3 linked regions of the Homo sapiens genome follow. The protein of the gene in region 3 interacts with the protein of the main gene of each other region in a biochemical or structural test. Each region holds a gene or a part of one and is shown on either strand. Other genes may lie near its edges.

Region 1 (7,749 bases), about 21 Mb from region 3:
CGCTGATTCTACAACTCCTAATTCATAATAAAAATATTGAAATGTAAAATGAAATATATTAAGTCTAAGCAAGAGGTTTTGCTTTTTGACTGAAATAGGAATACTTTATCTAGCAGAATGAGAAAGGTACTTCGAATTAGGCAAGGGATTCCCCCAATGGCTGAATTCCCAAGCCCTCTTTATTGCCAGTTTTGACTCTAAAGTACTCTTTTTATTATGAAGTATCCACTGAAAAAACTTAAAACTGAGACAGTTCCTCAGTTCTGTTATTGGCAGACTTGAAACCAACAAAGGTGATTCCTTTGATGCTTTTTCTGCACAAATACTTTAAGATGTCCTAGTTTCCTATCTAATTTATCATGTAATTTTCCTTGCCTTCTTGGCATGTGTTTGTTTTACGTATATAAAAATTTTATTTCTCTTTTATCCCTACCCATAAGGCATTCAAGCTTTATCTTCCTATTTCCTAATTTTTCACTAGGAGGCATTAACACCAATGTGCCTCAAAAATGGGCAAAGGAATTCAACACACATTTCTCCAAAGACACAGAAATGGACACCAAGAACATTAAAGATGCTCAACATCTTCATCATTGGGTAAACGCATATCAAATTCCCAAGATGCCACTTCACACCCAGTAGGATGGTATCATAAACCGAAAAAGAAAAATAAAACACCCCAGAAAATAACAAATGTTGATAATGATGTGGAGAAACTTTCAGAAGCTTCAAACATTTCTTACAGGAATATGATGCAACCACTCTGGAAACAGTCTAACAGTTTCTCAGAAAGTTACCATATGAACCAGTAATTCCACTCCTAGGTATATACCCCAGAGAACTGAAAACACATCCACACAAAAAACTTGGATACAGTACTCGCAGCAGCATTATTTATGCTAGTCACGAAGTGGAAATAAGGCCAGGCGCCATGGCTCACACCTGTAATCCCAGCACTTTCAGAGGCCGAGGCGGGCGGGCGGATCACTTGAGATCAGGAGTTCGAGACCAGCCTGGCCAACGTGGTGAAACCCCGTCGCTACTAAAAATACAAAAATTAGCCGGGCATGGTGGCGCGCGCCTGTAATCCCAGCTTCTCAGGAGGCTAAGGCAGGAGAATCCTTTGAACCCGGGAGACGGAGATTGCAGTGAGCCGAGATTGCGCCATTGCACTCCAGCCTGGGCGACAGAGCGAGACTCCGTCTCAAACAAAGAAGTGGAAATAAATGTCCATAAACGGATGAAAGGATAAACACAATGTGCCACATGCATATAATAGAATATTATTTAGCCATAAAGAGCATGTGTACTGATACACGCTACACCATGGATGAACTTGAAAATGTTAGTGCTAAGTTGAAGGAGCCAAAAAACAAAAGGCCACATACAGCGTGACTCCATTTATATGAAATGCCTACAATAGGCAAATTCACAGAAAGTACAAGATGAGTAGTTGTCAGGGGCTGAGGGAGGAATGGGAAGCAATTGTTTAAAACACACTACATGGTTTCTTTCTGGAGTGATGAAAATGTCCTGAAACTAGACAGTGGTGATGGCTGCACTACACTGTGAATATATTTAAACAAAAAACAAATACCTGAATTGTACACTTTAAAATGGTTAAAAACTTGAATTTTATCTCAAACAAAACAAAAATCAAGTGCCCTCAAATGTATATTTCTAAGTGCCTAAACTGAGAACGATCTCTACTTTCAAGAGGACTAACACTGAGCTATCCACCTGCAAGACTGTGAAGTTATCTCCTAGGGGCACATAGTACCCAAGACCTACCTTAAAAGACTTGTCACAAGATACCCAGATTAATACTGGAACACACAAACCTCATAGTTTTTCTTCATTTAAAGAAAAGATTTTGAGTTTAAAAAACAAAAACAAAACAAAACAAAAGCTTGGGACTCCCCAGTACTTGTTTTCATAAAGCAAATCTAGTTAATACACACCCAACACTTAACTGTGAATAACTGTCCCGTCTTCACCTCCCACTTACGCCAGGAAATGAGCAATACAAGTACTATCATTCCCATTTTCTAACTGAGCAAACTAAGTCTCCACAAAATTTAATTCTCCAACGTTCAGAGTTTACAGAGCTTTAACACAGGCCATTCGCTTTCTTACTATTAATTACAACTAACTTTCCAAGTTATTTATTTTAAAAATCACATACAGCAGATTGCTGTTTGCCAATCACTGACTTAAACACCTAGAAATCATATTTTTTAACAACCCTATGAAATGGATGCTACTGCGACACAGAGAAGCTAAACAACTTGCCCAGAGTAACACAGCTCCTCGTGTGTAGAGAAAACCTGACTAGGAGAATTCAAGTGCTAGCACTGAGAACTCACCTTCCAACCGCCCTCTACCAAGAACGACACTCATGTTTGCACCCAGCTTTGCTTGAATGAAGCTTCCTGTCCACTGGCTGGGAAACCAGGGCAGAAAGGGCCTGAGGAACACGCGCAAAGGGCCGCTCTCCCAGACCCACTCCCCGCACCGCCTGCACGGATAATCGCCGCACACCCCCGCTCGAGCCCAGCAGGCGAGTGGGGTGCGAGGTCGAGTGGAAGCGCTGGGGAGCCGACGGCGCAGCAAGGGGCGAGTGAGGTGTCCCCCGGGAAGGCGGCGCACTGACTGGCGCGGGACCGGGTGGCCGCAGGGCGGCTCAGCCCACGGAAACGGCGGTAGGGCGGGAGGCTGGCGCTGCAGCTCCAGCCGGGGGGCATAAGGAATATGGGGCCGGACCACTTACCTCTTCTGAAGCCATGGGGGCTGGGTCAGGCCGAAGTCCCGAGCTGCAGCCGCGCAGAAGGAGGAACAGGAAACCCCGCGCCGAGCCCTCAAACCGAGCGCAGACGCCTACCCGCACGAGTCGCGGCGCTGCAGCCTGCGCCCACACCGACCCTGCGCAAGATCGCGGCCCGCCTCCCGCACGCGACGGATCTCGAACCTTCGCGAGGCAGCCGCCGCCACCGCCCACCGCGAGCACGCACAGCCCGCCAAGCCTGGCTCCACCCACCCTTCCTCGCCTCGCCGAGCCTAGCCCCACCCCTCCCCGCCCCGCCGAGTCTGGCTCCGCCCGCCTGCCGAATCTCCTAGCAACGCTCAAGTCTCGCGAGCGAACCGGCAATCCGAGAAGAGTAATGTCTTGCTCTCCGCCCTGACAACTTTTATGTATTATAATTTGACCGCGCTGGGCCACGCTGCGCAGTCGCAGCTCGGAACCGCTGCGTTAACCCAGCCCCGGAAATAACGTACCGATCTTCGGAGTCCAAGTCGGAAGTTGACTAGAGAGTCACCTGCTTTCGTCCGCTCTAGGACACCAGACACACCAGGCCGCCATGTTGTGTAAGGTTAGTCTCTCAGCCTCCGCGAGAAGAAGGCGAAAAATGGGGAGGAGCAGCCTGGTTACTTTCAAACGAGAAAGAACGGATATGTTAAGCGTGGAGGGCTCCTAATGGTAGCGGTTTGATTTTCAGTGAGTTTGGCGCGGTGGAGACGTCACCGCGGTCTAACAGTTCCGACGTGGTGGCGTCATCACTGGCCGCCGTAGGAGGTGGAGCTACGTTGGCCTCGTGACCGGGCCCTGTAGCGGAAGCCCAGGTCAAGGCCCTAACAAAAGGGCCCGCCTATGGCCACAGTTTCAGGCCCTCCTTTCAGTCATGGACTGTTGAAGCACGATTTCCTGGTGCTTTCGCCCCTTTCACCGACCATTTCAAGAGTCCGTAGTTCTCGCCTGGGTTTGGATTCGGTATAAGTGAGCCTGTTTACCATCAAAGAAAATGGTGAAATGTCTTCTGGAGACGATGTTCTCTTCTGGTTCTAACCCTGTCACTCAGTGAGACCCCCAGAGAAGCCTAGTTTTCAGATTATTCTAGTCCTTGGCAGGCTCAAGATGTCAACAACACGGTTGGAAACAACCCCTGAGAGGTCACATAGCGCGCACTCAGCTTTACAGATCGTCCAAGGCAGCGACCCCTGAGAGGTCACATAGCGCGCACTCAGCTTTATAGATCGTCCAAGGCAGCAATTAGAATCAGCAACTCGGAGAGGAAAAAAAGCTGTTAGCGGAATGGAGGCTGACCATTATCTGTAGTAAAGAATCGGAAGTACAGTACAAAAATAAATTACCGAAACGCAACATGCGTGAATTTCACACAAAAAAATGAAGTTGAGGGAAAGAAGCCAGACATGGAAGAGTTCATATTGCGTGGTTCCATTTAAAAACTAGCCCATGGTGTTAATGAGCATAGTGGGGAGGACAATGACATGAAAGAGCCACCAGGGGGCTTTTGAGGTTCAGGTAATGTTTCTTGATTTGGACACTGATTATAGATAGGTGGGTTCACTTTAGAAATCTCATTGAGTTGTAAACGTATATTTATGTACGTAGTTTTTTCTGTAGATTATGCTTAAGGCCCGGCGAAGGGGAATTTGCCCAGGTAATGGAAATATTACACCGATACATAGAATTGTCAAAGTTCATGGGATGAACTCCTAAGAGCTGTGTATTTTATCGTATAAATTTTTTTAAGTGTCCAACCAATAGCCTGGAATTATTAAGTACATAATTAAATAAAAACAAATATCCCATGGACCTAATGCAGTGAACAGTTACCTCGTTCTCTTAATTGCTCAGGCTAAGGACTCATACCTGAGTCTTCTATCTCAGGCCTTACATCTTATATAACAAGCCTTACTGGCTTAATCTTCAAAATATGTAGCGAATTTAACGAGTTCTCACAACCTCTGCTTCTACCACCTGACGGGGTTTGGGACATGCTACCCAAAAATATGGCACCTAGACATATTGAATACTTTGAACTGAAGGAATTTGAGAAAGAACATATGCAGGAATGTCTCTAACTTTCTTGCACCTTTCTGCTCTGAAGCAGGACGTAATACCCTCATGTGAGAATTGCCCTGTCTATACCTGGAATAAAAGTAACATCTTTATCTCTGAAAACACAGGGACGTAGAGACGAATATGAACATCAGGCCTTGCTAAGTTTCCCCCAGTTTATTACCCTTAGATCACAGTCTTTTAGCCCCATCACATTTTCCCACAATTCTCCATTCTTCTTCAAACCTACTCTAAACAACACTAAGGTTAACTATTTATTCGGGTCTTCATTTCTTTATGAAGTTTCCATGTTATGTAAAACTAACATTAATATTTATGCTTTTCTCTTGTTAATTTGTCTTTTGTTACAGGATCCCCAGCCAGTGAGCCTAAAATGGGTAGAAGGAAAAGATATTTCTTACCCTACGCACCCAGGTCCAAGTCATCATTATTTTGTCTGAAATTTATCTTCCTAACTGATTTCTCTGCTTCCCCATTGTGCCTTAAGAGTTAGTTTTCCACAGAGCAGCTCGAGATATCTTTTCAGATCATTATATCCCTTTGCTTAAAAACCTCTAACAGCTTCCTATTAGGCTTAGAATAAAGTACAAACTCCTTAATGTGAACTTGAGTGTTTTACGTATCTTATCTCACCTTTATGAGCTTCATGTCAGAACCCATCTCTCACCACTCTTCCTTCCCCGCTCCCTGATTTAAACAGTCTGGCACTTTACTTATTCATTGAACCCACTGGGTTTGCTCTTGCCTCCAAGTCTGTACCCAGCTTTCTCTCTACCTGTAATCCTCTTCCTCTAGGTCATCACACAGATCGTTTCTTCACTCTATTTAGGTCTTTCAGAAGTAACACTAAGGGAGGCTTTTCCAGACAATATTATGCAAATATAAATGGACATGTGACAAATACTTTATTCGACTTATTAGTTACTGAGAGTGTATTTGAGTAGCCAGGTATTTATAGGCAATTTAACAATGTAATGTTAGTATAAGGTGGCAAGGTTAGATATAAACCTGTTAATGTCTCACAGGGTAATAAACTATAACTTTTGGTGTTATCTGTTCCACTGGAAAGGAAGTAGGGATTTGCATTCTTACTGGACAAAAATCTACAAGTTAATGTATAGATTCAGTATAGGACTTTTAAATCAATAGTGAACGATGAAATGAACAAAGTACAATCCCCTAGTCCTTGGTTTGACACTGAAAGGACATGCCACTCACCTTTTTGCCTTGTTTCCAAAGTTTGGAATAATTTTCCTTTCAAAATGAAATTATTTCTCATTCAGTTGTCCTATTGCAGGCAGCCTTTACTGCTTCCCCCAGTTAATGTACCTGTCAAGCTTACTCATGATTTCCTAACTGCCAAATTCAATGGATATTTTTAATTTTTTTTTTGCTATGACTCATACTGTTCCCTTCGGGCTTGTCAGCAGATAAATGACCTTCTGGGGACTGTGCAAAATATGGAATGCTTAATGAATTTGTGTGTTATTCTTGTGCAGGGGACACAACAGTCTTCTCTGTAGATTACAGTTTTAGTGTATGTGCTGTTGAAGTGAGCACTTCTGAGTAATTTTGATTGTTTTACTTTTTATGTAAAATTTCACATTGTTTAAAACACCAGATGGGGGCCAGGCATGGTGGCTCATGCCTGCAATCCCAGCACTTTGGGAGGCTGAGGCGAGTGGATTGCTTGGGCTCAGGAGTTTGAGACCAGCCTTGCCATGTGGCAAAACCTTGTCTCTATAAAAAATAGAAATATCAGCCAGGCATGGTGGTGTATGCCTGTAGTCCCAGCTACTTGGGAGGCTGAGGTGGGAGGCACTTGAGCCTGGGAGGTGGAGGTTGAAGTGAGCTGAGATCACGCCACTGCACTCCAGCCTGGGTGACAGAGCAAGACCATCTCAGAAAACAAACAAACAAAAAATACCACATGGCCAAATGAAAGATGTCTGTGGTCTGAATTTGGGCCAAAAGCTGTAATCTTACAGTCTTTGATTATTTTTTAATACATGCTGAATTCCAAGAGGAGCTGACAAATCTCTTGAGATTTCACTTGGGTTCCATGGATTCCCAGCACAAAATGCAAATGCAAATGAGATATGATTGGGATTCTCTGCACACTATCTCCACTTTCATAAGTGCCTCTGAAGTTTAGTTTGAATTTTATAGTATCTCCTACCTTGCTGTACCTTAAAGGACTAACAGCAGCTACCTGACCCAGGATTAGCCAGTCATATTTTTTCCAGAATTTGTAATTGGAACAATTGAGATGGTAGTCTTCTGCTGGTAGTTTGAAGAGAGGATATGTAAACTTGGTAGCTGTGTACTTAGAAGCAGAGAAAGCCTGTTTTCAGAGAGAAGAATGAAGCAGGTAAGTCATCTGGAAGGACAAGCAGAAGCACAATTTTGGGAACAGTTGCTTTCAGAGTCCTGATGGCATTCCAGCCCCTTGTCCTAGTGCCAGTTCAGGCCCAAGTGTTTGGCCTTTGGGACCTATGATACAGATATCCTATTTCCTTTTAATTAATTGCCTCTTAAAATTACTATTATTAAGCTAGCTTGCAAGGGTTTCTGTTACGTGGAATCAAGGAACCTCAGTAGAGAGGAAAATGAAGCACTTTGTGGTGGTGCTGCACAGGGTATCATTTTGCAGGGTATATACTGTGTGTTTTCTACGTTGACTGGAGTCTGGGGTCAGGTGTAAGAAGTGTTACATAAACATTGGGTTCAAATGAGTCAGAATAAAGTCAACTAAAAAAATAAAAAAGACATACATGGACTTCAGAACAAATGTTTATTACTGCTTAATGGGGCCAAAGGGGCAACACAAAGCATTGAAAACATCACTGGCTCACAAAAACAGTCAC
Region 2 (7,199 bases), on a different chromosome or scaffold from region 3:
TCTGGGGACTCTTTGAGGCCTAAAATTGTATCATTATCCTTTTAGGTTGTCTTTCCAAGGTCATTTGACAGTACAATGGCTAAGAGTGGGGCTCTGAGGTCATATAGGCCTGAGTTCAAATCTCAGCTCTGCCACTTATCAAATATGCAGCCTTAGGCAAATTAGTTAACCTCACTGAGAGTAATAAATTGAATAATTGTCCCTAAGGTATGTATTTATTCAGTGAGACAGCATATATTAAGCACTTAGAACTAGATGCCATTGATGGTAGAAACGCATGCAGCTAAACAGCTGAGCTCAGGGCTTTCAGCCTTCTAGGATCTTGTGTGGAGATGCTAATACCCAAAAAACAGAGGGAGGTCACCTCTACCCAACTTGCCATCCCAGTCTGCTGTCAGGGACTAGGGTATATGCTGAAGAAAAGAATGTGTGGATGGGCATTCAGGATGAGTAGCAAGCTTCCACCTTGACCTGGGTGCATTGCCCTTTAAATACCTCCTTAATGCAGGCCAGGCATGGTGGCTCACACCTGTCATCCCAGCACTTTGGGAGGTCAAGGCGGGCAAATCACTTGAGTTCAGGAGTTGGAGAGCAACCTGGCCAACATGGTGAAACCCCATCTCTATTAAAAATACAAAAATTAGCCAGGCATGGTGGCACGCACCTGTAATGCCAGCTACTCGGGAGGCTGAGGCAGGATAATCACTTGAACCCGGGAGGCAGAGGCTGCAGTGAGCTCAGATGGCACCACTGCACTCCAGCCTGGGCAACAGAGCAAGACTCTGTCTCCAAAACAAAACAAAACCTCCTTAACCAACAGGAAAAAAAAATCCCTGTTAACAACATCCATTCAGTTAGTACATTGAATCTCTAGGATAATTTAGTATTATGTGAGCTACATCCCTGATTCTCTAGATTGTAGCTTCTAATTACACTCAGAAAGGATTCTTTCATTATTCCATAGTAGAGAGAAGTAAATGGCCTCGTCAGGAACAATGATCTATCTCACTTTAATTCTATTGTTTCAGTGGATCTCACTTTAATTATATTACTTCTGATTAAAATTCTTAGATGTCTTTTATCAACCTTGAACTACCAATTCCAACTTTATCATCCTTTTGTGTTCAAACAGGGTTGGCATCACCATTCACATAGAAATCACCAACAGGAACATATCACATATGAAAACAAACTTACTGGACACTTGTTGTTCTTTAGTACTTCAACTGATTTTTTCACCCGACTGAAAATCAGTGGGTATCTTGTTTGCATGGTGGTATTGGTCATCTGAGACAGTCTCTCACTGAAGCATGGTCTGGTGCAGTTGTCCTGGTAAATAGTAAGGATTTATTCAAAGAAATATTCTGAGGACAGCTTTGGAAATATATCACAAAGAGCAATATAATAGAGATGATTTTTATTTAATCACCATTACTCAAACTTGCATTATTTTTAGACAGGTCCCTTGCCAATGTAGGAAGTGATCTCCCGTATTTAAAGGGGATGCCATTTTTCCACAGTGACATCCCCTGGAGGAGACTTCCTGTATGTTACATCCAGGAAACATGAGGGCTCTGGGCCCTGAAATAGTCGGCTCTGAATGTTCTTTTCAACGGGTGCTTCCCGGCTTCAAGGCTTGTAAGTCTGAAAGTGCAGAGTGAGGAAAAGCCTTTTCACACCAGCTAATGGGATGTGACAATTGAATGCAGCTGGTATTTCAGCAGCAGCTAAAAACATGGACGGTACTCCAAGGGACAGGGGCTGTGCTGTCTGCCTGGTTCCTGCCCAGAAGGCACTCTATCCTCTTCTCATCTAATGGATGGACCGCGATGGGTGCGATGTCTTACCCTAGCCAGGGCAAGAAGCTCAGATTCTTCAGATTCTCCCAGGCCTTGCATGAGAAAGAATAAAGCACTGCACCTTGGAGAAGTGCCTCCTCCTCACCCTAACCAGGAGTTTGAATTAGGAATCAGAACTTTCCTGCCACCCATCCTTCCTGCCGTAGTGGGCAGTGGCCCTCTGGAAGCCCTCCTTCCACTCACAACCTCAGATCCTCTACCTGCCCAGAGGGCAGCATTCAAACCAACAGTCACTCTAATCAGCTAGACAGACAACAGGGTGGTGGGGAGGAAGGGAGGAGGCAGGGAGGGGGAGGTATAGCGCATAGATCATTCATGACAGATGAAAGATAAGGAGTTGTCATTTTATTTACATTGTTTCACAACTCTAGAGTTATCAGTAAATGAGTTAGAAAGCAATATGATATGAGCTACAGCAATTATTATATCCTTAGTTCCAGTTTTATTTAATTGTGCACATGGCCACCTATCTAAAAAGATATTCAGGATTCTTTTTTTAATGTTGAAAAGTGTTCAAACTTCTCAAGAGGCATAAAGTTAATTAAATACAAAGAAATGTTCATAATATAGGATTTCAAGATCGTAGTTTTAAAAGGGAATAATTTGTAACAATGTGGTTTTAACAGGGAATACTAATCTGTAACAATTAAATTAAGCAACAATGTATAACATTAAATATTAAATAAAGCAACTTATTTTTACTTAAAAACAAACCAAAAAAATCCAAGGTCAACATTATGTTATTTCACTATACTTACAGAGGGAATGCCCAAACAGAGACAACTGGTCACCTGCAAGGGAAATTTCAGAGTGAAGATTCCAGATGTGAAAATTAAAATTAATTTGGAAAGTTCTTAAAGAGCATTCACTCACATTAGCACTGCAGTGGCACTTGGAAGCTGGATCTTCCTAAAGTAGATAGAGAGATAAGAACCTTTAGTCAGCCCCGAGTTTTTTCATCCTCATACATATTTCACTTTGTCAGTAGCTGTCTTTCCCATGGGCTCCCCCTGCAGCCTACCTGCATCTTGTTGATGAGGAAGTTGATGTCCAGGATCCCCGCCAAGGTTGGACACCCCTGGCCTGCCACGGAGCACAGGAGCAGGGCAGAGGTAAGGACCATGGCCAGAAGCATCTTGACAGCGGACTGGAGCTCGCTTGCAGACACCTTCAAATCGAGTGGTATTTAAAGCTCCCTCTCAAACACGGAAAAACCCTGACATCAAACTGATACCAAGAGCCCACTTTTTCTCTGTAAGTTGGGGCCACTTTATACTAACAAACAAAAAAATCAAACTGAGTCACTTGACAGAGATGATGCTGTGCCAGGAAATATCATTCCTCAGAAAAGATGATTTTCAAAAAGTTGAGTACTGAAATGCTGAAGGAAAAGTTAAAGATCTAAAAACCAAGAAAAAAAATTCAAAGACAGGGATTCTGGTTGTGAGAGTTAGAATACTTTCCATGAACGCCCAGGTCTGTATTTTCCCTTTTTACATTATGGGAAATGCTGATATAATATAGCCAGTCATGGGTGTTCTAACGAAGGGGGGCCTGGGGAGACAGAGCGGGTTGGGGGAGGGTGCATGATATTGCAGAACTTCACTTATCTCTGTTGGGGTTTTCCTTTAGTAATTGCAACCTCAGTCTTACTATGCTTTATTCCCAAATCTCAATGTTTTTCATACCCAGGATGAAGTTTGCCACCTAATGCAAATGCATCTTAGAAGTATCCCTTTGTGCAAGTGTCTGAAAGAAGAAATGTTCAACTATAAGCACAAGAATGCGGCAACCATGCTTGTTAAAATTGGCCTTGAGGACTCCTCAGTATCTTTGGAGATCTTATATAACACTGTATGACATCAAGTAAAAACCCAGCACTTGAAAGAGTATAGTAGCTAACATTTACTGAGAACTTACTACATACTAGTAACATTTCTTTTTTTTTTTTTTTTTTTTTTGAGACAGAGTCTCCCTCTGTCACCAGGCTGGAGTGCGGTGGCACAATCCAGGTTCGCTGCAACCTCTGCCTCCCGGGTTCAAGCGATTCTCCTGCCTCAGCCTCCCGAGTAGCTAGAATTACAGGCACCCTCCACCACGCCCGGCTAATTTTTTGTATTTTTAGTAGAGACGAGGTTTCACTATGTTGGCCAGGCTGGTCTTGAACTCCTGACCTCGTGATCCGCCCGCCTTGGCCTCCCAAAGTTCTGGGATTACAGGCATGAGCCACTGGGCCTGACCATACTAGCAACATTTCTAAGTACTTTACATGCATTAAGCCATGTAATACACTCGGCTGCCAAATGAGGTGGGGAGTAATTTGTCATCACCATTTTTTACCCTTTAAAACACTGTCTACATCTTAGCTTCCTGGCCCTTCAGTATGGCTGTGTTTAATCACTATGAGTCAAAAAAGCAATCTCAGTGTAACTCTATGAAGTACTATAATTATTCTTATTATCTTACAGATGGAGAAACTGAGGCATAGAGAGGCAGGTAATTTGCCCAAAACCACAAAGCCAGGAAGCCGCAGAATTTGTATTCAAGCCCAGAAGTCTGCCTCCTGATTTCAGCTCTTAATCCTCCTGAACTCCTGTTTTTCTGCAGATCTTTTATCTGCCTCTCCCACCAGGATATATACTCCAGGGCTTTATGGGTCCAGTTCACCCCTATATTCTCAGCACTTAAGGAGGTGCCTGGGGAACTGTGGGCACTCACTAAATGCTTGTTGAATTAAAACACTAATTTGAAAAGTAGTTCTTGAAATACGAACTTCCTACTTCTGGGATTTATAAGATTTCAAATCTGATTTCTAGGATACATATTTGGAGGTATGTGCAGGTAAGTAAATATAGCTTCTACACAGTAGATTGAAAAGGTGAGGGGTTCTTTAGCTTAGCACTCTGAACTATAATAGCCAGTGGGGACAAACTCATAAGATTTCCTCGCCTCCACTGTAAGAGTATGGCAATACTGTTTTTTTTCATTTTGTATTGTTTCTTAGGAGTGATGATGGCTCGTCAGTGTTCCACTGCACTATGGGGAAGGGAGTGTCTTGGTGGTAAACAAGGTAAAGAGAAACAGGTGTTTTGCTAAATTCCCTTAAGCCATCCCACATCTCTGACTTCCATCCCTGCTCTTTGCAGACACTGAAGAGAAAACTCAAAGGATTCCCAGCCTGTGGCAAACACTTTTGTTACAAAGCACTGGATGTATGCCTTTTTCTTGATGGTAGAATTCTGATTAGTTTGGGGTACCAATGTATCCAGCCAAACACCCACATTTTCAGCCTCTTTTGCTGCTACATGTAGCCATGCAGCATGTTTCGATCAATGCAAAGTATGTAAAATTATTTTGCTTTCCTGGTAATAGGAGACAAAAGTGGCTGAACCCTGTCTTTCCCCTTAATTCCAATTTGGGTGTGATGGCAGGAGCTTCAGCAGCAATATTATAACTATGAAGAAATGGACAAGAGAATTACAGCAATGGCAACACTAACATTTTTCATAAATAGCAAATATTCAGAAAGGCAATAAAAAATAAAACCATGAGACTAACAAGAGAAGTAATAATAATAGTACAACAGTGATACTAAAATTCTAGCTAGCTATCACTGCCTACTGAGGATCCTGAGTTATAAAACCTGTTCTTGTTTAAAAAGAAAAGAAAAGAAAATTAGCATGCTTTGGAGAGATTTTAAAGATACATTACCATCAGACTAAACCTCCTTCCCTGACATTATTGGAAGACTTGAGAGAGATGTGAAAAGGCAATCATCTTTTCATTCTGTGAATCAATATTATCTGATGCTCTCTGTGTGAACCGTGGAAATCATTTCACCTGCCATCGGGTATGCCTTTCATATTGAGGAAAACACCACCCCACCCCTCCTGTTGTACAGATGGGGGCTTTGCCCAAGAAGAGAAAGCCACAGCTCTAGTTTCTAGCAGGGGATAGTACAGTGCAGTGGTTAAGACCGGTGACTCTAGAATCAGAATGCCTGAGTTCAAGTCCTGCCTCTATCACTTGCTAGCTCCATGGCCTTGGGGGATTGCTTGGCCTCTCCCAGCTTCCATTTCCTGACCGTAAGTGAGGATGGTGATGTGGAAAGTGGGAATGGGGATCTAGGGATGCAGTTGCAGTTGTCAGTTCTCACTCACTCGTAAGTGAGGATGGTGATGTGGAAAGTGGGAATGGGGATCTAGGGATGCAGTTGTCAGTGAAGGCTCCCCTCAGGGTACTCCCATAGAGATTAAAAGAAACAGCTGCTCCATCCCTAACTTGGTTTAAGTGGCATCCGGTTTGAAGTTTGTTAGGGCAAAGCAGCCGAGGTTAGCGGTCAACAAACTGTAATCCACTTTTCAGGTTGAAGGTAAGGTCTACAAGCTAAGAACAGTGTTTACCTTTTTAAGGGTTCAGAGGGTTAAAGTTTATAAAGAAATAATTAACAAATAAAAACAAGCATGTGTGATAGAGACCGTATGTAGCCCGTAAAGCCTAAACATTTATTATCTGGCCCCTTTACAGGAAAAGTTGGCCACCCCCTGGCTGAGTTCCCACACCCCACCCCACATTTTCTGAAGACATCAACTATTATCCTCCAGTCCTGGGAAGGGTAGAGCTAGGGGTTGGTTGCTCAGGTGTCTCTTCTCCCTTTCCCCATCTGGTTATTTAGGTCAGGTATCTGTACAGAGGGAAGGGAGCAGGGGACCTGGGCCACAGACTGCCAGATTATCCGAAGTGTTGGGGGCCTGCCATTTCCTGAGGCTTTTTGTGGAGTGAGCTCGCTGGTCCAATGAACCAAAGATCTTCTCTCAATGAAACCCGGTAGCTGCAGCAAAGATATCTCAGGCAGGCTCTGGTTTACTAGGAAAAGTCCCACATTTTGAAGTTAGGAGAAAAGTGAATGAATTAACAAGTTAAGTCTTGGCTTGACCAGCAGGCCTTGGGTCACCCACCTTCCCTGCTACCCTCAGGAGCTGGCTCAGGGTCAAGTGATCCATGGCCACTGGTGTTCCTTGGGCAGGTTACTTACCCTTTCCATGCACCAATGCACCCCCAGTGCTCACTCACTTAGAGAAAGGAATGTAAGCCTTCACCCAGCCCTTCCTCATGAAAGAGAGGAGTGCTCCATTTGGGATATACTCTCAGGAATGAGGCATGTTTCTGTTTGGAAATGTGGTCTGGTCTGGTCCAGGTGCCTCGCTCTTTGATACCCCCTCATTACTACCCTCCCGTCACATCAGTTTCTTTTCATTTCCATCCTCCAGGCCTTTACCCTTGCTAAGCTTGGCCTGCTGGCTCCTTCCTCAGCTCCTCCCTACGTGACCTGTTCTCATC
Region 3 (6,406 bases):
CCACCTGGGACCTGGGCAGCCGCAGTAGACTCAGTCACACAGCGTCCTCACTGGTGTAGGAAACTCCCTGAGCCAAGCCTCAGGCATCTCAGATGTGCCCTATCTAACCCCTGCGCTGTGATGAGAAAGGGGACTTGCCCCACCCCAGGGCCCCTCTTGCCACACCCAGAGCAAAACACATCTGGGAGCCTCTGGGACTATCTCTGCCTCACTTCCAGGCCCCCAAACCCCATCACATCCCGGCCCAGGGACCATTTCCATCTCCAAGCTCATCCCAGGACTCTCTCTACTGGAAACCACTTGAGCCTTTCCTTAGGATGGCGTTGCCAAGAGGGGCATCTCTCCTCATTCACATAAAGGCACCTTATGTGCTAGAGGCAGCCTTGTCAGGGTGGGTCCTCTGGCCTGGCGAGTCAATGAGTCATTTTCAGAGGTTGACCGTGAGCAAATCTTCCAATGGCTGGTGTCCCACTAAGCCAAGGAGGAACAGAAATCATTCGGAAGCCAGGACGCAAGGGTAAATTTGACCAAAAAAAATTTATTGTACAATTACCCACCACTGGATTTGACTCAGAGAGGACCCCCAGAGGGTGTCTCCATCTTCCCTATTTATTTTCAGCCCTTGAGGGCTTCATTGTAGATCAAAGCCAAGGCCCCCAGGAAGGTGACATACTCCTGGAAGTTCACCTCCTGGTCCTTGTTCCGGTCCAAGTCTTCCATCAGCCTTGCAATTTCAGCATCCTGCAGCTTCTAATGTGTTAGAATGTGAAATCCATACTCAGTGGTGATGACAACCCTGGATTCTTCCCCTTCCCCCTCCCAGGCAATCCTCTCTGCAAGTGGCTCTGTGCTCCCTCATCACCAAGGACCCATGTCACTTTGGCATTGCTTCTCCTCAGCTACTTCTCAGTTACTGGTCCTCATTTGGAGAGATGGATATCCGGCTGGAAGCATCCCCTACCCGCTGGGAGAGTGGGTCTACAGCTCAGGGTCTACATGTGGACCAGGGCCTCAGAATGTGGGTAAATGTGAGTCAGATGCACCTGGCACCTCTCTCTCCCCTAATCCTGCTTCCAAAGGACAAGGGTGGGAAAAGGGGTCCTGGGGAGGAGGCCACTCACCGAGCCAATGGTGAGCTCCTTCTGGATCAGCTCCTTCAGCTCCTTCTTGCTCAGGGTGTGCTTGTCACCCTCCCTGCCGGAGTACTTGTGGAAGATGGCCACGAGGAGGCCAATGGCCTGATCCAGGGGGCATGCCATGGCTGAGGGCTGGGCTTGGAGCTGGCAGCAGAGGGCCTAGTCAGTGCCATGGGAGCAAGGACTTCTCACCCACACACCCCAATAATGCTGCCTGCACTAGCCCCGCCTCCTTTGGAACCACCCAGTCTCAGGCCACACACAATGGCATCAGGAGACAGCCCAGGGCTTGAAGGGGAAGGAGAGAGCACACTAGGGCCAAGGCAAGAGAGGTGGCTTAAGGATTCTAAGAAGCATATAGGAACAGTAGCTTTGGGCACAGCTGAGAACTGTCCTTCAGGGGATCCAGAAGTTGAGGAGTATGGCTGGGCAGGGGAGGGGAATGGAGGCTGCAAAGGCAGCTTAAACACAGCTTCACAGGGCCACACATGGTGGCAATGACACACCCAGGGCACTCCCTTCCGCACCCCAAAAGAGCACACCCCATTGCGATCCCTTAGCCCAAGGCCTGCCTGGCACAGCACTGCTGCTCCTGACTATCCCTCCAGCGGGGGAGCGCCACAGATGGCCCCAGTCTGGATCCAGCGGCTGAACTGGGCAGGGGATGGCTGGACCCCCAGCGTGAGGGCAGCTGGCCCTGGAAAGTACCCAGGGCTCCTGGAGAGAACTCACCGGTAGGGAGGCGGCCAAATGCGACGCGAGCGGTCGAGGGGATGGGCTGTGTCGCAGTCCGACTGGCCTTATAGCGGTCGGTGCCCCGGAGGCCAGCTCGGCCAAGCCCACCCCGCCCGCCCAAGTCCCGCCCGCGCCCCACCCTGCGCCGTGGCTTACACAACGCACATTCGCGGTTTACCCCCTCGACTTTCCACGCCTCCTGCCCGGGGCTGTTCCGGGTTAGGACGGGATGGGGGAGCCCAGCAGTGCCCACTGCACGCCTGGTGACGAGTCTCCCCTCATCTGCGCAGCTCAGTTTGCTCAGTTTGCTCTTCGTGACACGTGACTCGGCAAGGGGAGCAGGAGGAGGACTGCGGCGGTCACCCCTGCTTCCTCTGCCAGACCGTGAATGTGACCCTCGAGCCAGCGCAGCGTCAATGTGGGCAAGGAGGGCGCCTCACAGGATGCCGGTGTCCCACAGAGGATACTCAGGGTCACCCCAGAGGAGATAGGGGGAGTAGCCAGTGGTGTAAAGGATATCTACGGCGCCCATCCCCCACCAGCAACAAGTTCCTACCAACACCTCCACTCCTTCCCCTCAGTGCCCCAAATTCCATTCACTACAGCACCTTTGGTGTTAATGTGCATGCACGTGGGAGCCCAGCCCTGTAAGCACCATTCGTTATTTACGGGGGAGTGAAGGCCTTTTCAGACCCTCCCCTGAGAAAAGATTTTGATGGAGGAGGCAGGGAGAGAAGAAAGCACTGTCCCCCATAGATGATGAGAGTGGTGCTATTGAAGGGGAAATGGTGAAGAGGGAGGGGGCTGGTGTGGAGGCCAGACATGCCCTTCCTACAGGTGCTGCCAAGGTGGCCTCCGGTGAGCTGTGGACAAGTCAGGCCTGCCTGCCTATCACCGCCCTCAGGAGCCACTCCCAACCCCTCCCAGTGTCCTCCTCTCAAAGCAACTTTCCCTCTTAACTTCCTCTGCATCCTTGCAGAGTTCCCGCCTGGCCTAACTTCCCCATTTTCCAGGCAGGCAAAACTAAGCCATGACAAAACCAATGACGTCCACACCAAAGAAGGAGAGGAATGCAGTGGGAGCCCAGGACCCTAACCCCCAGAGGCAGAAGCTGTCTCAACCCACTCAAGGAGAGACCCTTCCTGTGCTCCCCTCTCCCCAGGCCAAGGTAGACAAGACAGCTTCAAAACCAGACTCCCAGCACCTGCGATGGAAACTTTATTTCCTCCCATGGAAGGGTCCATCTGGGAGGGAGAGGAGGGCAGGGGGCCAAAGAGGGTCTGTGAGAGGAGCAGCCGAGGTCAGCAGCAAAGGGTGGAGGGTGAGGGTGGAGGGCAGCCCTGGTCACTTGTTGTCCTCTAGAAAGAAGTCGTTGTAGGCCATGCACAGCATGGTCAGGAACACCGAGTACTCCTTGAAGTCGATCTCCTGGTCGCTGTTCTTGTCCAGGCTCTTCATCAAGTCATCGATGCTGCTCTCCTTCATCTTTTGTGGACCCAGGTGGAGAGACAGCTCAGACCCCGCTCCCAGCCCTGCCCTCGCACCACTGCATGGTGTCATCCCCACCCCGAAACTTCAGGGTGAGCCCCAGCTGAGTCAATGACACTGTCAGCATCTCGACCCCCAGAGTCTGCCCACTGCCCACACCTAGGGAAGGGCCTGGCATGAGGTAGGGGGTCAGGGACCTGACTCCTGAATGGAAATAAATGACAGCAGGAATGCTAGCCTAGCCTGCCTTCCCTGCAATACTGTCCCCCAGCCAAAGAAACAATCATCTAGGTTTTATACCAACACCTGATAAAAACAGCTTGCTGGGTCAGGTGTGGTGGCTCACACCTGTAATCCTAGCACTTTGGGAGGCCGAGGCGGGTGGATCACCTGACATCAGGAGTTCGAGACCAGCCTGACCAACATGGTGAAACCCTGTCTCTACTGAAAATACAAAATTAGCCAGGCATGGTGGTACATCCCTGTAATCCCAGCTATTTGGAAGGCTGAGGCAGGAGAATCGCTTGAACTTGAGAAGCGGAGGTTGCAGTAAGTAAGATCATGCCATTGCACTCCAGCCTGGGCAACAAGAATGAAACTCCTTCTCAAAAAAAAAAAAAGAACACCTTGCTGATTATGTGGCATTGAGCATTATCCAAGTCTCTGAGTGACTCTCTCCCCATTCTAAGGACTAGGTGAGAATAACCCCGGACAAAATGTCTCTCAATGAGAGCAGTGCACTGGGGCTGTGAAGCCACTGCATCCCTCCCCTGCTAGGAGAGCTGTGCAAGAGGCCTGCCTGGAGCCTGGTTGTGCACTGTTGTTCAGTCCCCTGATGTCCCAGCCTGGCTCCATTAGGACGATGGAGTCAGGGTCCTTTGGGTGGAACAGGAAGAAAATATAGACAAGCAGATCCTGATGTCTCCTCATCATTGCCGTCAGCTACAGGTTTTCACAGGAGACATTGGGACTTACAAAGGCGGAAACTGCTTGTCTGTCACGTGATCCTAGTCCCCAGCCTGGGCTCCTGTTATTGCCAGGCCCTCCTCTGGGCGTCTCTCCTTCTGTAATTAATCCCTGCTGGACCTGTGGCCCCTCCCTCTGCCCTCATTAACCTCCAGGATGCAGGCAGCCTGGCAGAAGGCCAGAGATCAGGCCTGGGGACGCCCATACCTGCTTCTGTCCCCTGCCCATGTGGCACACTGTGGACCTTCTTTCTGGGAGGGCCTACCAGGGCTCAAGGTGTGATAGATGGAGAGGCACCCAGGCTAAATTTTAAAGGAAACAGGGAGGATGATTCACAGGCCTGGCCCAGAACTCCAGCTCAGCCTCCCACTAGCGGATTGTCCTTAGGCAAGTTATTTGATGTATTTGAGCATTGATTTTTTTTAACTATAAAAATAATAAGACTAGGCACAGTGGCTCATGCCTGTAATTTCAGCACTTTGGGAGGCTGAGGCGATAGGATCATTTGAGGCCAGGAGTTCAAGAACAGCCTGGGTAAAATAGTGAGACCCCATCTCTACAAAAAATTTTAAAAATTATCTAAGCGTGGTGGTATTTGCTTGTAGTCCTAGCTTCTCAGGAGGCTGAGGTAAGAGGATCACTTGAGCCTGAAAGTTCAAGGCTACAGTGAGCCATGATCGCACCACTGCACTCTAACCTGGGTGACAGAGTGAGACTCTGTCTCAAAAATATTTATCCTTGGCCAGGCGCAGTGGCTCACGCCTGTAATCCCAACACTTTGGGAGTCCGAGGCAGATGGATCACGAGGTCAGGTGTTCGAGACCAGCCTGACCAACATGGTGAAACCCCCATCTCTACTAAAAATACAAAAATTAGCTGGGCGTGATGGTGCGTGCCTGTAATCCCAGCTACTGAAGAGGCTGAGGCAGGAGAATCGCTTGAACCTGAGAGGCGGAGGTTGCAGTGAGCCAAGATCATGTCACTGCATTCCAGCCTGGGTGACAGAGCGAGACTCTCTCAAAAAAAAAAAAAAAAAAAAAAAAAAATATATATATATATATATATATATATTTATTTATTTATTTATCCTCGGGGATATTGTATTATAATAACCTCATGGGCCTTCCCCTCTGTCAGTCACCTCCCTCCCACCACCTCCATCTGGTGAGAACCAGTTCTGTCTCCTCACTACCCTATGTTTACAAGTTAACCTTTCAGTTTGAGTGCCAGCACCATCAGAGAGCCCTGGCCATGCTGTGCACACAGAGAAGAATCAGGCAGAGTCCCTACACTTGAGTTGTACACAGCTGGACCTGGACACCCTGCATCCCTTCACCACCCATGACCCCTAGCACAGGTTCTGCCACTGCTGGGAGAGCCTGGCCCCACCATCGAAGGCTCCTCAATCTCCTTCTCTAAACCCTCCAGACTCAGCCCTTCCTCCTTCTCAGTGAGACCCTGACCCATTCTCCTTCACAGAGGGCTAGAGTTTTGCTGGCCCGAAATCCCCACCATCTTCCTTTGTCTCTGTCTGTAGCCCTTGGCCACCCTGCCCCTGGCTTAGGCTGGAGGATCCTGAGGGTAGGTATGTGTCCCCCAGAGGGAGTACTCAGACTTTGGGGTGGAGGATGAGGGAACAATCACCTACCTCCCCAAGACACAGCTCTTTCTTGATCAGCTCCTTGAGTTCCTTCCTACTCAGGGTCAGTTTGCTACCCTCTCTCCCCGAATATTTGTGAAACGTGGTCACCATAGTGGTCAGGGCCTTCTCCAGAGGAGTCTCCATCACAGTGTGCAGCTCTGTAGAGGGAGAGGGGAAGATCCCATTCCTCAGGAAGTCACCACCAGCAGCACTAGCCTACCTCTGAGGCCCCTCCCTCAAAGAACAAGAGACTGGAACCCAGGATGAGACTGAAATCCACTAACAAGAGCGCCCATCTATATCAGTACAGGTTACAATGAGACCCACAACAAACTCTGGAGCTGCTGGTACAAGGAGAACAGCAAGACCCCAAAGGAGACCACAGACTCTCCTGCTGGGGAGTTGTTGAAAAGTAGGCCTGAGGCAGAAAGATGAGAAG

Evidence for each region.
Region 1: the proteins of S100A6 (region 3) and CACYBP are reported together in a solved structure, tested with the Homo sapiens proteins (2 studies listed by BioGRID and IntAct, with this or other methods).
Region 2: the proteins of S100A6 (region 3) and IL9 form a complex in vitro, tested with the Homo sapiens proteins (one study listed by BioGRID).

Annotation. Positions count from the first base shown.
Region 1 is NC_000001.11:174,995,217-175,002,965, reverse strand, and holds the start of CACYBP (calcyclin-binding protein), read right to left. Parts: upstream 3,020-7,749; 5' UTR 2,786-3,019; coding exon 2,771-2,785; intron 1-2,770. UniProt on the Homo sapiens protein: May be involved in calcium-dependent ubiquitination and subsequent proteasomal degradation of target proteins. Probably serves as a molecular bridge in ubiquitin E3 complexes. Participates in the ubiquitin-mediated degradation of beta-catenin (CTNNB1).
Region 2 is NC_000005.10:135,892,823-135,900,021, forward strand, and holds the start of IL9 (interleukin-9 precursor), read right to left. Parts: upstream 3,020-7,199; 5' UTR 2,995-3,019; coding exon 2,881-2,994; exon of another isoform or gene 2,876-2,880; intron 2,769-2,875; coding exon 2,733-2,768; intron 2,651-2,732; coding exon 2,618-2,650; intron 1,330-2,617; coding exon 1,198-1,329; intron 1-1,197.
Region 3 is NC_000001.11:153,534,081-153,540,486, forward strand, and holds S100A6 (protein S100-A6), read right to left. Parts: upstream 1,912-6,406; 5' UTR 1,869-1,911; exon of another isoform or gene 1,281-1,868; 5' UTR 1,260-1,280; coding exon 1,122-1,259; exon of another isoform or gene 824-1,121; intron 751-823; coding exon 616-750; 3' UTR 519-615; downstream 1-518. Other genes in the region: S100A5 (protein S100-A5), read right to left, coding at 3,216-3,356, 5,974-6,125. UniProt on the Homo sapiens protein: May function as calcium sensor and modulator, contributing to cellular calcium signaling.